Linked DNA regions of Homo sapiens. The protein of the gene in region 2 purifies or fractionates together with the protein of the main gene of each other region. This does not show direct contact. Each region holds a gene or a part of one and is shown on either strand. Other genes may lie near its edges.

Region 1 (7,482 bases), on a different chromosome or scaffold from region 2:
AATTGCAATTACTTTTGCGCCAACCTAATATTATCACCACTTTACAGCTGGGGACAATGAACCACAGAAAGGTTAAGTCTGTAGATAGATTGCACAAGTACTAAGGGTTGAGGCCAGCATTCACACCCAGGCAGGTGATTATACTGCTTCCCAATAAATGGTATTACTGTTGTGAGAATCTCCAAAACCCCAAGGTCAAAAGGGGGAATTTACAACTTCTGGGTCCCTCTCTTTTATGTGTTCTCCAATAGCAAATATGCAGTGAGTTTATGGGTCTCAAACAGTGACCTCTTTCTGGTTACTGCTAAGGTAAAGAAAGATTCATTTCCCTCGCCGGAAGGTAAAGTAATGAAGTGGGGAAAGTCTGGCGTCCCAGCACTTTTGAATCAGCACTCGAGTGTTGTTGGTCCAGGGAACAGGGCTTCCCATAACAAATAATTATACTTTGCAATTTCTCTTTAGTTTGTGAGCTACTTTTGCATATGCACTTGCATTCTCATTGAATCATTACAATAATCCTGAGCAATGACTGCAGGGCCCATCCAACAGGTAAGGGCACCCGCTTTGGCCAAGGTCACAAGGTAAGTAGGAGAGCCAGGATGGCAGCCCCATTCTGACACTTAAACTAGTATTCTTCTCTTAGTGTGATCTCAGAGTCTGGACTTTCAGTAAGCTTTCCGGGTGACACCGATGCACACTCAAGTGTCTAGCGGCACTGCTCTCCACCATTCCATAGAATGCACAGCTGAAGGTGGACCACATCTGTCACATGGAGGCACATGGGTAGACCGTGACTACTCACAGCTACAGACCAGCTTTTTCAAGCTGAACCAGAGATGAGAAGGCTTAAGGAGTACCCTGTGAGTGTTCTGGAGTCTGGTGGCTACCCCAGTGTGGAAGCTATTAGGATTACAATGAGAAAAGGAGGAATCGGCCGGGCGCGGTGGCTCACGCCTGTAATCCCAGCACTTTGGGAGGCCGAGGCGGGTGGATCATGAGGTCAGGAGATCGAGACCATCCTGGCTAACAAGGTGAAACCCCGTCTCTACTAAAAATACAAAAAGTAGCCGGGCGCGGTAGCGGGCGCCTGTAGTCCCAGCTACTCGGGAGGCTGAGGCAGGAGAATGGCGTGAACCCGGGAAGCGGAGCTTGCAGTGAGCCGAGATTGCGCCACTGCAGTCCGCAGTCCGGCCTGGGCGACAGAGCGAGACTCCGTCTCAAAAAAAAAAAAAAAAAAAAAAAAAAAAAGGAGGAATCACCATTCGTTTATAATATGCTAAAGCATATTAGCATATGCCTCTCTCCTTTTATCCACTGGCAGCAATAAATACAAGTTCGTTGAATGAATGAATGAATGAATGAAACACTCCTCTAGAATCTTGTGAAAGCTGGAGTCAAAGGAAAAGAGACTCAGAATATCATAAATAAAAGTAGTTATTTCCTACCTAACCAGTGCTGGAGAGAACAGGAATCTTCTCGTTTGCAAGGCAGCCTCTTTGTCCTACCCAGGTTTTGTTTACTCCTTTCTCCTACAAGAGTTCCTTTCACCAGCTGTATTATCCGGCTGTGAAACTGACACGCCATGTTTCTACTTATTTCTGTCCCATGGTCCCTTTTATTCCCGATTCCTAGAGGCCAGCTTAACTTGGTTGGTTTGGAAAATCTACCAGGTGAAGTCTTCTCCTCAGTGGCCCGTTTCGAAAGGGACATGTCGGGCACATGATTGCGGGTCCAAGCAAGTTCAGCCCTCTCTTGCTACTGTTACATACAGAAAAGAAGTCCTTAATGGTTAGCCTCCAAAGTTATGAGGCAGAAGAACATAATGTTAAGCACGGAGGAACAAAACTCCCCAGGATAAAAATCCTGACTCTGCTAAGTTCCTAGCTGTCTGACCCTGGGCAGCTATTTAACCTCTTTATATATAATTTTCTCATCAGGAAAATTGGGATAATAAAATCCCCTAACTTACAGGAATGTTATGAGAAATAAATTAGTTAATTCATAAGAAGGACTTAGCATTACTGCCTGGCACATACTAAGTGCTCAATAAATAATAGCTCTTGTTATTACTATTAAAGATTTGGCTTACCCCAGAACTGTCACATCCAACCACTCCATGATTAAGACCTGCTATTTTAGGACTTGAGATGTTTGAAAACCCTACTGTGTACCAGGCAGCAGTACCACCACCATGGGTTAAGTTGGTGGCATGAATAACTGCAGAGTCTTGCTTTATTGCCTTTCTCTGAAAGAGCTTGAGGCACATGGTATCCTTTATCCTTGCCCCCTTTTTTTTTTTGAGGTGGAGTCTTGTTCTGTCACCCACACTGCAGTGCACTGGCACAATCTCAGCTTACTGCAACTTCCATCTCCCGGGTTCAAGCGATTCTCCTGCCTCAGCCTCCCAGGTAGCTGAGACTACAGGTGTGTACCGCCACACCCGGCTAATTTTTGTATTTTTAGAGTAGAGACAGGGTTTCTCCACATTGACCAGGCTGGTCTCAAACTCCTGGCCTCAAGTGATCCACCTGTCTCGGCCTCCCAAAGCACTGGGATTACAGGCACGAGCCACCACACCCAGCAAATCTTTGCCTAATTTATCACCAACTAATTCTGAGGAGCCAAGGACAGGAGAGAGAATCCAGAAACTAAAGTACAGAGCAATTAAGAAATGGATTAGCTTCCACTTTTGTAAATCAGGAGTAATAACAGTATCTATTTCATAGGGTTGCTGGGAGGTCTAAATGAAATAATACGTATGAGGTTCATACTAGACAGCTGTTATTGTTTTTCTTGTTATTTGTACTAATCCCATTATCTTCATCTGGATATGTCCTCTCTCTCAACCTAGTAATGTAGCCAATGCCAGGCTATCTTTGTATAGATCCTCAAAATTCTACCTGCCCTACCTGGAAGCTGTCAACAGATTTCACAAATCCAACAGGGCTCAAACATGGCTGTGCTCTGTGAAGGGCTGCTCAAAATATTGCTTTCCCTTCCCCCTACATCTCAAATCAGAAGGTCCACACAGTAACAAACCACATTTGTTTATGGCTGTTCAGGGAGCAACAAACCACATTTTTCTGGAAACCTTTTAAAGTCTCTCTCTTCTCCTGAGCCCATGAGTTCGAGGCTACAGTGAGCTATGATCATGCCACTGCACTCCAGCCTTGGCAATAGAGTGAGAACCTGTCTCAAAAAAAAAAAATAAATAAATAAATAAAAATAAAGTCTCTCTCCCTCAAGAAGCACCTGAGAAGTAATTCCTTATGCATTCAGACTCCCTGAGAAGATGTCTGAAAACAGAGGAGAGGTCAATCCAAGATGAAATATAGACCTTCCCAACCTAGATCTTCTGGGATAGCCTGGAATCCTGGCTCAGTTACTCACTATTTGTATGACAGGAAACTGCTCTGAGCCTGTTTCCCATCTGTAAGATGGGAATCTTCTTTTTTTTTTTTTTTTTTTGAGACGGAGTCTCGCTCTGTCGCTCAGCCTGGAGTGCAGTGGCACAGTCTTGGCTCGCTGCAACCTCTGCCTCCCAGGTTCAAGCGATTCTCCCACCTCAGCCTCAGCCTCAGCCTCCTGAGTAGCTGAGACTATAGGCATGTGCCACCACGTCAGCTAATTTTTGTATTTTTAGTAGACATGGGGTTTCACCATGTTGGCCAGGTTGGTCTCGAACTCCTGACGTCAAGTGATCCACCCACCCCAGCCTCCCAAAGTGCTGGGATTACAGGCGTTAGCCATCGCACCTGGCCAATGTAAGACGGGAATCTAATGTTACCTACCTCATAAGGATATTGTGAGGAATAAATATGATATCATATACTAAATGCTTATCACAGTACCAGGGACACAGCAAAGCTCTCAAAAATGCTAACTGCTCCAGAAATACATTTGGATTTTTTAAACCACATATCCCAATTTGTAAATCCACATATCCCACAATTTGCAAAAATTGTCATTGGAGGAGATCATTCCTAGAAGAGCAGAAATTCTCATTTGGGGAAGATACATTGTAGAGTTGTTGGCTTTTATTGGCTCTGGGAGCCTGTAGTTGAAACTTATTGTTTAAACTGCCCGTGGAAGGAGGGTGGAAAACCTGGGGCTCCCCTTTCCTATTTGCTAGGCTTGTGGATGCCATAACCTGGCCTCTCCACTTGGTTAGAAGGAGGCTACAGTCAACTCAACAGAGAAGCTGTCTCTTGTCCTCATCCATGCCAGCGCGTGGTTGCAGGCCACTACCCCTCCCCACCTCCCCCAAGGCGTGACAGGAAGTGGAGCTGCCGAGCTTGGAGAGATCCCTGGAGGCACTTACAACCTTGCAGCTTCTTTATTTCACATGCTAATCAGGTGTCTCTCTGGATACCCTTCTCTGTACCTGCTCTGCCCTACACCCAGACAGAGGGAGGGTCCCTCTCCCGCAAAAAGGCACTGCCTGGAGCCAGGAGCTTCCCGGCTCCAGAAAACCTCCGGTGATAAATTATGCAGCAGCACCTCTGTGTCACTGCCTCTCAGCTAGATGGGAGGTTTGCTCCCAGTCTTTTGTTTCCGGCTCTGCTTGCCGCTCTGATCCTCAGCTGTGCATAGAGGTGAGGGGGAGCTCCCATAGGCCAAGTCAGGGCTTGCAGCAAGTCCCAGCCAGGCTATCCCCAGTTGGGTCCCAGACAGCGCCCCTCCCCTCATTCGAACCTGAATGATGGGGGAGTCCTATTCCGCATGGGGAAACAGGGTGTCAGGGAGCGCTAACAGCCAGTCCGCTCATCTGTGAGCAAGAATGGGAATGCCTACGAGCAGTGAAAGAATGAAGTCTGCTTGGATGGGCGTAAGAGGCGCCCAAGGGCACCTAGGATGTTTGCTTCTTGCTAAATCAAAAACGCACAACAGAAAATGGAGGCAGACAACCGTCAGGAAGCTAGAGAATTGGCTCTTTTTAACAGCTGCTCTTGGTTACGGTCAACTTTCCGCAGCTCCCAAAAATCACATCACTGGCACCAACTTAAAAAGAAGAAACAAAAGAGACAACAGGGGTCAAACTTTGAGGTGGAGGAACTAGGGGTTGGGGGCTATTCGGGGCTGGAGACCCACATCAATTAGGCCTGCAAGCTGACAGGCTTCCTGATTGAAAATGGTAGCTGCGAAGGCTCCACAACAGCCCAGCTCCCAAATTGGGGCAATTACTACCTTATGAGCTCTGGAGCCTGACTCCTTTCTCAGGCCAATGGGAGGGAGGGCTTGGAATTCTAAACTGTTCCAGCTACAAGAGTCCCTGGCCAGCCCCTCTCACCCCATGTCACAGGAATCTTAGCAGGAGAAGTTGCTAGGCTGCATCCCTGACCACTTAAGAAGGGAAACTCTCAGAGGAAAAGCTCCATTTCCCCAGACCTCTCTCAAGAGAACTAAGGCGACATGAGTTCCCCTAGACTGATGTTATAGCTTAGCAGACTTCTTTTCTAGGAGTGGGCACAAGTGGGAACTATGCTTCGGTTCTATCACGTTTTCAAGGGGAGAAAGAAGGGGCAGATCTTTAAAAGAGACAAGCAAAAGACCAGCTGCAATGAATGAAGGACCAAGTCTCAATTTTAGCACAGAACACGGTAGCATAATTATTTACCTGGCTCCCATGTTCTAAAGCCAAGAATCATCTCGGATCCACTTAGGTGACTTTGCTTACAGCTAACTTTTATCAAGCTCTACAGTAACACAGTAGTTGCCAAGCTCTGTGCTGCATAGTTTGAACATGCTATTATCTCAGGTAAATTTTATGATATTCCTATGTGATAATCTATTACTACTTCCCTTCCCCTACCCTACCCGCCTTTGCAGGTAACAACCCTGAGGTTCAGGGAGATTTTGCACAGGGTCACCAAGAATTGCCAGAGCCAAGATTCAAACCCAGGTCTGTGGGTGCTTCTTAATTGCTGAGCTTCGTATACAGTGATTATATTAATGCTTGACATATGTGTGTTTGCTGAATGAATGAACAAGTGAATGGGTGTGGAGCCTAGTTTGAGGAATGCTCCCGATTGTACGAGGAACTCATTCCTGCCAGCTCTAAGCTGGAGTGAGAGTGACAAGCCCATGCAGTCATCAGAACTATTTATAAGGTCAAACTCAGGCTCTGCCAGCTAACCAGTCAGCACTGAGTCTTCCCTGGGACACTGAATCCTCACAGGCTGAGGAGGGGAGGAGGGCTTCCGCTGCTGAAGATGAGATGGCAGTCCAGACACAGTCTGGGGCCCAGATGCCCCATGTCCAGGCAACTGTGACAAAACTCGTGGCTAAGCTGCATCAAGGAATGTAGAGAGACCATGGCTGGAACAGGCTAACAGACCTAGTCAACCAAGGGCACAGACTGTCTCGTAATCTTACCCAATCATAAAAAAGACAAGATTACTTCTTAAAGTAGTCCCTGAAATTCTGTTCCTATTCAGGAACCCCCAGTATTTTTTTTTTCTTTAAAGGGGCAGCAACATAAACAATTTCTCCTATTTTCCTTCTAACAGTTAAGACTGGCAGTTAATCGGTAGAAAGAGTGAGCAAAGAGCTATAAAACACCGTGTCCTCTGTGACCTCCTGTGTTCTTTGCTGGCCCAGAAGATGGACATACCCAACGTGCTCTGTATCAGACATGGCCAGACTTGGTTCCCTTGCACCTGTCATTCTTAATACCACGTGCCAGTCCAAAAGATGTTATCTGATATTCATCAGGGTACAGAAGAGGAAATCCAAAATCAGTGACAAGCCAAGTATGTTTCACAAGCCCAACAGATCAGGGACAAGGTCACTCAAGCACCATGACAACCCTGGTCACGACAACAGCGAGATGGAAAGGAGACCAGTCTCAGCTCAATTGCTCTGCACTTATTTTCAGATACAACCTTCTATCTACCCAAGCACGCCTAGGCAGAAGTTTTAACATTTCCCTTACCTGGATGAGACCTCTAGAACAAACACACTTTCCACTCTTCCAATGGTTGTCATCCATGCCCTTACTTCAAACTTCAGGATGAAAATCACTCAGGGCTATTACCAGCCATCAAGTTTCCTTCCAAAATCTTTAAGGTTGGAGAGTTATGTGGGCTGAGTCCAAACCAATAGGCTCTAGGAAAAGCCCCAAGGACTAGCAGCATCCAAATAAGCACCTTAAACTTTATTTATTTATTAAGATAGAGTCTCACTCTGTCGCCCCGGCTAGAGTGCAGGGGAGTGATCTTGGCTCATTGCAACTTCTGCCTCCCAGGTTCAAGCAATTCTCCTGCCTCATCCATTCGAGTAGCTGGGACTACAGGCATGTGCCACTGTGCCTGGCTAATTTTTGTATTTTTAGTAGAGATGGGGTTTTGCCATGTTGGCCAGGCTGGTCTTGAACTCCTGACCTGAAGTGATCCGCTAGTCTCAGCCTCCCAAAATCACCTTAAACTTTAGTGTCTTTAATTCATGCCTTGCTGAGGTCAGGTCTGCCTAATGGATCTACTA
Region 2 (8,129 bases):
GAGCCCAGGAGGTGGAGGTTGCAGTGAGCTGAGGTTGTGCCACTGCACTCCAGCCTGGGCGTCAGAGCAAGACTCTGTCTCAAAAAATAAGAATAAATAAAATAGCTCCATCAGACAGATTCTGCCAGTAAAACTGTTGTCTAGGTGGGGAGACAGCTTCTTTATGCTTGGTACCCTGCCATCTACCCTGAATCCTCTGCCCTGAGGGTTTTTTGTTTGTTTGTTTTCTTCCTTTCTTTCTTTTTTAGACAGTGTCTCACTCTGTTGCCAAAGCTGGAGTGCAGCAGTGTGATCATAGCTCACTCCAGTCTTGACCTCCTAGACTCAAGTGATCCTCCTGCCTCAGTCTCCTGAATAGCTAGGACTACAGTTCTATGCCACCATGCTCGGCTAATTTTTATTTATTTATTTATTTATTGGTAGACATGGTGGTTTTACTCTGTTCCCCAGGCTGGTCTTGAACTTCTAGCCTTGGCCTCTCAAAGGGCGGAGTTAACAGGTATGAACCACTGCACCTGGCTTTGCCCTGAGTTTTTACACTAATATATTATTTCATGTCTCACATTAAATGTCACCTTCTCAGGGTTCTTCATACCACCTCAGTGACTCTTACATGTTTTTATTTGTAGAATTTTTTTCCTGGCACTTTTTAGATTCAGGGAAATCCAATTAAGGTTGACAGAATGTTTTGGTTTCTTAACTGTTGAAAAGTTAAATCATATAAATGAAACCAAACTGAATGGTGTTATGTTTACTTTTATCATCTGTATTGCTGTGTATGAAAGTACCCCAGAAAACCGGAAAACCATTTTTAAAAGCCTTTTTCCAGAAAGGAAAATAAAATGGCCAGACAGCGTGGCTCACACCTGTAATCCCAGCAGTTTGGGAGGCCAAGGTGGGTGGATCATCTGAGTCTAAGAGTTTAGACCAGCCTGGCCAACGTGGTGAAACCCTATCTTTACAAAAAAATACAAAAATTAGCCAGGCATGGTGGGACATGCCTGCAGTCCCAGCCTCTCGGGAGGCTGAGGTAGGAGGATCGCTTGAGCCCAGGAGGTTGAGGCTGCAGTGAGCCATGATGGTGCCACTGCATTCCAGTGTAGGTGATGGAGCGAGAGCTCGTCTCAAAAAAAAAGAGAGAAATAAGCTAACTGTTGTGGTAAGGGGTGACATTAATATTATTCACACATCCTTTCTCTGGTGCGGATTTCTCAGGGTTGTGCTGAGACCTCCAGTATTTACAGCAGCTGATAGTCACTTAGAATATTCTGTCTGTGCCCTCACTGAGCAGGTAGTGACACAGGTTAAGAAGAACAGAAGCAAATAAAATGGATGTGTCCTCACCCAAGACATTACTATCTGAGAAGACTGTTTCAAATGAATAAATGAAACTGTGGGCATGAGAACCACAGGTGAATTCAACCTGGGCCAGTTTGCTTAAAAGGAAAATGTATTTGTACAATACTTAGGATTTAGATACAGATATGACTGTTTGGGTCAATGGTGTGGGCTGGGGTTGAGAGGGGGTTTCAGATGGATAAATGGGACATGTCCATCCCCAGGCACAGAGCACATGATGTCAACCCTGAGCTATGAAGGTCAGGGAGTGACTGAAGCCAAGGAGAGAGGAGAGCTCACATTTAATTAGTTGTTTTACACAACAGTTTGCTAAGGTAAAAATAATAGTTTGTTAGCATGTTTGTTTCTCAACAGAATAATTATTTACCAGTTGGTTTTGTTTGCTTGTTTGTTTTTGAGACGGAGTCTCGCTCTGTCGCCCAAGCTGGAGTACAATGGTGCGATCTTAGCTCACCACAACCTCCACCTCCTGGGTTCACGCGATTCTCCTGCCTCAGCCTCCTGAGTAGCTGGGATTACAGGCACGCACCACCATGCCCAGCTAATTTTTAGTATTTTTAGTAGAGACGGGGTTTCACCATGTTGGTCAGGCTGGTCTTGAACTCCTGACGTTGTGATCTGCCCGCCTCAGCCTCCCAAAGTGTTGGAATTGCAGGTGTGAGCCACCGCGCCTGGCCTTGTTTTGTTTTTGAGGAACCAAGATCTCCCCGTGTTGCCCAGACTGGTCTCCAATTCCTGGGCTCAAGCAATCCTCCTGCCCCTGCCTCCTAAAGTGCTGGGATTACAGGCCCAAGGCACCATGCCCAGTCCATTTACCAGTTTCCAAATCCCTATTAAATATCTTATATATATTTTTTCCACTACTTTATATATAGACACAGGAAGAAACCCAAGATTGTCAATTTTTTATTCAAACAGTGGAATTGAGGGTCTTTGTTTCAATTAACTCATCAGTGCTGGTGAGAAGCAAGTGAAGACTCTTACAGAGGCCATGGGGAACATTCCCTTTTGCCCTCTGATGTTTTGCTGAATTAATTGGAGAGAAGGCAGATTAATTGGAGGAAAAGCATACAAATTTTATTTAACGCGTATATCCAGGAAGCTTCAGAATGAAGACCCAGAGATACAAAGGAAATTGTTCATTTTAATGCTTAGGCTTAATGTATGGACAGCCGTGTAGAAATGTGATTAGATTGAAAGAGTATGATCCAATGCTAACAGACTGAGTGGGGAAACCCAACAAGGCCTGTGTGTCTAGATTGTTCTTGGCCTTTCTGAGCATGCATTCCTTCCTTCTCAGTATGAGGCAGGACCCACTCTGAAATGGAGGGTCTTATGACCTACAGCAAGCTTGTCCAACCCATGGCCCAGGAAGGCTTTGGATGCAGCCCAACACAAATTCATGATCTTTCTTAAAACATTAGGAATTTTTGTTTTTGCTATATATTTTTAAGCTCATTAGCTATTGTTAGTGTTAGTGTATTTTATATGTGGCCCAAGACGATTCATCTTCTTCCAATGTGGCCCAGGGAAGCCCCAGGGCCACCCTGACCTGCAGTCAAACAAAGTTGGACAGTTAATTTGCTTATGGCCAGTTTTTACACAGAAAGGACAATGGAAAGTTAGAGTAGTATGTTTTGATTTTATGCCTGGATTTAGGGGAAAAGGGTTCTGGATTCTACGACCCACTTTGGAGAAGAGAGATTCTAGTTTCTAAGGCTAGCCTTGGATAGAAGAGTAGGACTAAGAGTCCCAAGAATGGGACTAAGTTTTTCCTCTGCCCTCTGTGGAGAAAAAACTTTTGCTTCTGAGGCTTCTTCCAAGGTCTTCTTTTTGGGGTATTGTTTTCTGAGCCCCAGCCACCTGGAGTGGGCAGCAGAGTTTGAACCAGTGACTCTACACCGAGCCCATTCTGAAGGCTGCAAAGGGAGAGAAATGGAGCCCCCTTTGGTGCTTCCTCAGCAGCCTGCGCACGCCTCCACGTAGCACGAAGCTGCACATAGAATCAGAATTTACCATTTATGTGTTAGGAAAATCTGGGTAAAGGGTTTATGAATTTGACAGTTTATGTAGGTCAGTACCTTAAAGTAACCTTTTTTTTTTTTTTTTTTTTTTTTTTGAGACCAGGTCTCACTCTGTCACCCAGGCTGGAATGCCGTGGCACGATCTCGGCTCACTGCAACCTCCGCCTCCCAGGTTCAAGTGATTCTCCTGCCTCAGCCTCCCGAGTAGCTGGGATTACAGGTGCCCGCCACCATGCCCAGCTAATTTTTGTATTTTTAGTAGAGATGTGGTTTCACCATGTTGGCCAGGCTGGTCTCCAACTGGTGACCTCAGGTGATTCACCCGCCTCGGCCTCCCAAAGTGCTGGGATTGCAGGCGTGAGCCACCGCCCCGGGCCCTTAAACTAACTTTACATGAAACTTTCCTGTTGGTGAAAATGCACATCTTGACGGTGGGGGCATTTCCACACTCTGCAGAGGGCACAGGGAAGTATGTTGAGCTCCCAGAGTCAAATCCTTCAGTGTCCCAGTCTCATCACCAGGTTTTGGTTCACTCTGGGGTTCCATTTCAACAGTTAAGAGTGGCTGCCAAGTTTGGGCATATGTTTAGCCTCCTGAATGGGACGTTTGCTGAAGTATGAGGGCAGCAGGCTGCTTATCTGCACTAGTTCAAGTTTTTGCTTTTTTTTTCCTGTTGTATTTTTGTTTTGATTCATTCATTCATTTATTGCTGCCGTGTGATTTCAGTTCTTCCACACATTTGATATTTTAATACCGTTCTTGACTTGTTTTTATTTCCTTGGCTGAAAATGAGCAGATTGAGAGGCAAGGTGAGAGAGGAAGGCTTAACCTTGCCGCCAAGAGTCTCATCCTCAAATCCTGATGCCCGGTGGACATCAGGCCACCCTCCTGCTGCAGTGTGGCCTGTGTGGCCTTGGGCTCCCCTCTGCTCTGAGGCCAGGGGAATGGCTCCACTGGACTGTGAGTCTGGGATTCCCTGCAAAACACTTGTGACTCCTTCTCCAGGAGGAAAAGGCAGTAAGGGCCTGCTGAGTACGGGCAGGTAATTCTGCATAAATGCAAATGTTCCCTGGGAGGGATCAGGACAGCACAGGGAGGAAGCCTGCCCTGTCAAGGGCTGTGCCTGGAACTCGTTCATCCCGCTCGACTCAGCACTGTGTGATCGCTTCTTCTGTCACTCAGTGCCCAGGGGGCGGGACCTGGAGCCCTATCCAATCAGAGCTATGGGGCGGGGTCGTGAGAACTGTCAATCAGGCGCACGGCTGGCAGTAGGGTGCCAGGTTCAAAGAGCCCGCGGCGTCTTCACGCCCCTGCGCTCAGCTCTAGACTCAGTCGCTCGCTGAGAGACGCCCTGGAACGTCTGTGTAGCCTCAGTCGCTGAGAGACGCCCTGGAACGTCTGTGGCAGCCTCTGTCACAGTGGGACCCGCACTGGCAGCGGGAGGCAGAGGGAGGACCCTGGAACATCCCGGAAGCCGGGAAATGGTGCGTGTGCAGGGTCAGGCGTCCCAAAAGTGGGAAAGAGCTGGTTGGAACCGTCCAGAACCGGCCGCGGCGAACGTGGGCCTCCCCCGCCGTCAGCTCCGGGGTCTGGGACCCGAGTCCCCCTGGCGCAGCTCGACCCTCGGTCCCCTCAGCCACAGAGTGAGGCTGAGCTGGCAGCCGGGACCCCGGGCGTCCTATCCGGTCCCTGCGCGGCAACTGCGGTCCCGGCCTCGGAGCCCTGTCTGGGCAGCTCCTCGCCCGCAGCCCCCCATCTCCCCAGGATTGGGGGAGGGTCACGGAAGGGTCATGGAGGGAATCCCCACTCGTGTGTGGGGTTCGTGCCTGTGAGGAGCTGTGATCTGTGGGATCCTCAGTCTCTGTTTTCTTCCTAAAGGGGACCGGTGTCCCTCTGAGTCTTCAAAGGTTTGGGAAGGCAGATGTCTAATGCTTATCTTGTCCCCTCACCCTAACTCCTGGGGCTGGCAGTAAATCCCTAGATTTCCAGATTTTGCCCTGCATTTCATAAAGCTGACTTCCTCTCCGTCACAGGGGAACGACTGCTATCTGGGCCGGTAACGCCGGGGTAAAATAATTTTTACTAAGACAGTTGTAGGTAAAGTTATTAGCGAAAGAAGCAAAATCCATCGCAAGGGAGGCCATGGGAAGCCTGCAGGAGAGAAGCAGAGGCTTGTGGGTGATTTTATAGAATGGAACTTGGGCTGATTGATAGTGCCAAGGCAGCAGAGTGCCAAGGCAGCAGGGAGCTTAACTTGCATTCCTCTGTCAGCCCCGGTGTTTGATAAATTGAGGCGTTTGATGGTGAGCAGGAAGTCTGTGAATTAAGTGCGTTATCTGGGCAAGAAGGCCATGTCTTGGGCCATAAAGAAAGTTAGACATGTACAGGAGTTCCAGACCAGCCTGGCCAAGATGGCGAAACCCCTTCTCTACTAAAAATACAAAAATTAGCCAGACGTGGTGTCACATGCCTGTAATCTCAGCTACTCGAGAGGCTGAGGCAGGAGAATCGCTTGAACCCATGAGGCGGAGGTTGCAGTGAACTGAGATCACGTCACTGCACTCCAGTCTGGGCCGGCGACAGAGAGAGACTCCGTCTCAAAAAAAAAAAAAAAAAGAAAAAAGAAAAAAAACAAAGTTAGACCCGTAACTTACCTGCATTCTCTTTTGTTTAAATTCTCTGCACATGAAGATAGGCAGATTTATAGCTTTTTTGTTTTATCTTTCTGCTTTCCCCTGTTCCCTTTAGCCTTTCCCTAATTAAGACTTTAATTTAACAGCCTTTTCCCCTGTTCCCCTTAGCCTTTTCCCTAATTAAGACTCTACACTGTCCTCAGTTCACAGCAACATAATGAACTCTTTGTCCCCCAGGCTGTATTTCAAACAAATACAGTATTTTAACTGTCATTTTTTTCCCCAGGTAGCAATATATGATTCTTTTTTAGAAGATATGATTTTTGTTTGTGAATATTTCATATGTGAGGATGCAGAGAATAACCACCTGTCAGGTGGTTTAACCACTCTGCTGTAAAAACCAACAAGAAAAATGTCTGCGCCTCTTCTCCTTTTATCTTCTCTGGGCACAGGCACCTTATCTGGAAGTGTTTGGGTTGAGGTTCCCCTTTGGAAACCACCAGCTGATGAGTCCTGAGCCCACACTATCTTTTCCTGGTACTGGCTTTGATAACTGCCTGGGACTGGCACCAAGTGGATACAGCAGCCTTGTCTTGGAGGGTAGTGAATATCAGCCCCTGGGCCACTCCTCCCAGAGGACAGCCTGAGATGCAGGGCTGGGGCCTCCCAGGGGAAGAGCTGGATACCCTGTGGTGGGAGGATTCCCCTGGTATCCTCTTGTAAAAAGTTAAGCCCTGGGATACTCAGTTTTCTCACCCCAAGCCCAGTTTTCATTTCTTGGAGACATGGCTGGTCAGCCACTCAGGTGCTGGTATTGAGGGGGTAAAATAGAAATGATTCCCATCCTTTGAATTCTGTTAGACTAGTGAAGCAAGAAAAACTATCCGAAAGGTCAAAGATAACTTACCCCAGTGAGGTGGTGTAAGAGCCTGAAAGTACACAGTGCGGTATCTGGTGGTTGGGGGTAGGGAGTAGTCACTGAGCACTTCAGTGAGCAGCACGGGGGTGGGGGATGTCCCAGGTGACAGGAGGACCTGACCTGACCCTTGAATGAGACTTGTCTGTGTTCCAGTCAGCACTGCCCCTCCCTGAGGTTGTCAACCTTGAAAAGATTTGTTCACTCATTTCTGTTCAGTTTTTTCTTAGCTGTAAAATGCATTCTATCATTAGAGATTGATAGAGAAGATGTTTCTAAAGGGACAAGAAAGAGTTGGATTTCAGAAAACAAATTACATATATCTAGTCCTATATGCCTTTAAAAAATTCTTGTTTACTTTTCTTTTCTGTCGTACTACACAGAGCCTGTGTAGTAAGTTTTCCAGGTCTGTTTTTTTGTTGTTGCTGTTGTTTTGTTTTTAATTGGATCATCTCAATAGAATTTCAGGGCTTAGCAGAGAAAATGCCATCAGGGAAAATAAATTGGAAAAAACTTTCTTCCATGATGACTACAGAAAAATGAATACTGTCTCAAGGCTCTTAAAATACTTTTTCTGGTATGAGAAAGGTAGAGAACCACATTCAAAATGGAAGCTGAGGTAATAGAGTGAATAAAAATTCATGAAAACAGGCAGGTCTGTAATTAGTTGATTATTGTATATGGAGGTGTTAGGCAGAAGATTGGTTATTCTTCTGGAGATAACAATTTGTCCCTGTTCTTTGGGTTGAAGTAGCTGTCATTTGTATCGCTGCCTGGCAATACCTGCTGTGCCATAGTTTCTCATACCTTAAATAGATGCTCTTGTTCCAGAATTTGCTGTCTTCCATTGGACTTTGTACCCATCACTTTGCTAACACCATACTCTCCTGATTACTGTAGACTTCAAAGCCTTGATGTGTGGTAGAGAAAGCGCTTCCCTGTCTTAATTACGTAGGATTGCTATACCAGATTGCCATAAACTACGTGCCTTAAACAACAGTTGTTCATTTCTCAGTAGAGGCTGGGAATCCAAGTTCAAGTAGGTCAGATCTCTGGTAAGGGCCTGCTTCCAGGTTTAAAGATGGCAGTTTTCCCCTTATGTCCTCAGTGGTGGAGATATGTCTGTAATGTCTGTCTATTTTTGGTACTAGGGCAATGTTGGCCTTATAACATCAATTAGAAAGTATTACCTCTGCC

What was found.
Region 1: the proteins of ZNF563 (region 2) and LRP4 purify together in Homo sapiens (affinity purification with mass spectrometry; 2 studies listed by BioGRID and IntAct, with this or other methods). This does not show direct contact.

Annotation. Positions count from the first base shown.
Region 1 is NC_000011.10:46,908,393-46,915,874, forward strand, and holds part of LRP4 (low-density lipoprotein receptor-related protein 4 precursor), read right to left. Parts: intron 1-7,482. UniProt on the Homo sapiens protein: Mediates SOST-dependent inhibition of bone formation. Functions as a specific facilitator of SOST-mediated inhibition of Wnt signaling.
Region 2 is NC_000019.10:12,330,218-12,338,346, reverse strand, and holds the start of ZNF563 (zinc finger protein 563), read left to right. Parts: upstream 1-4,713; 5' UTR 4,714-4,864; coding exon 4,865-4,867; intron 4,868-8,129. UniProt on the Homo sapiens protein: May be involved in transcriptional regulation.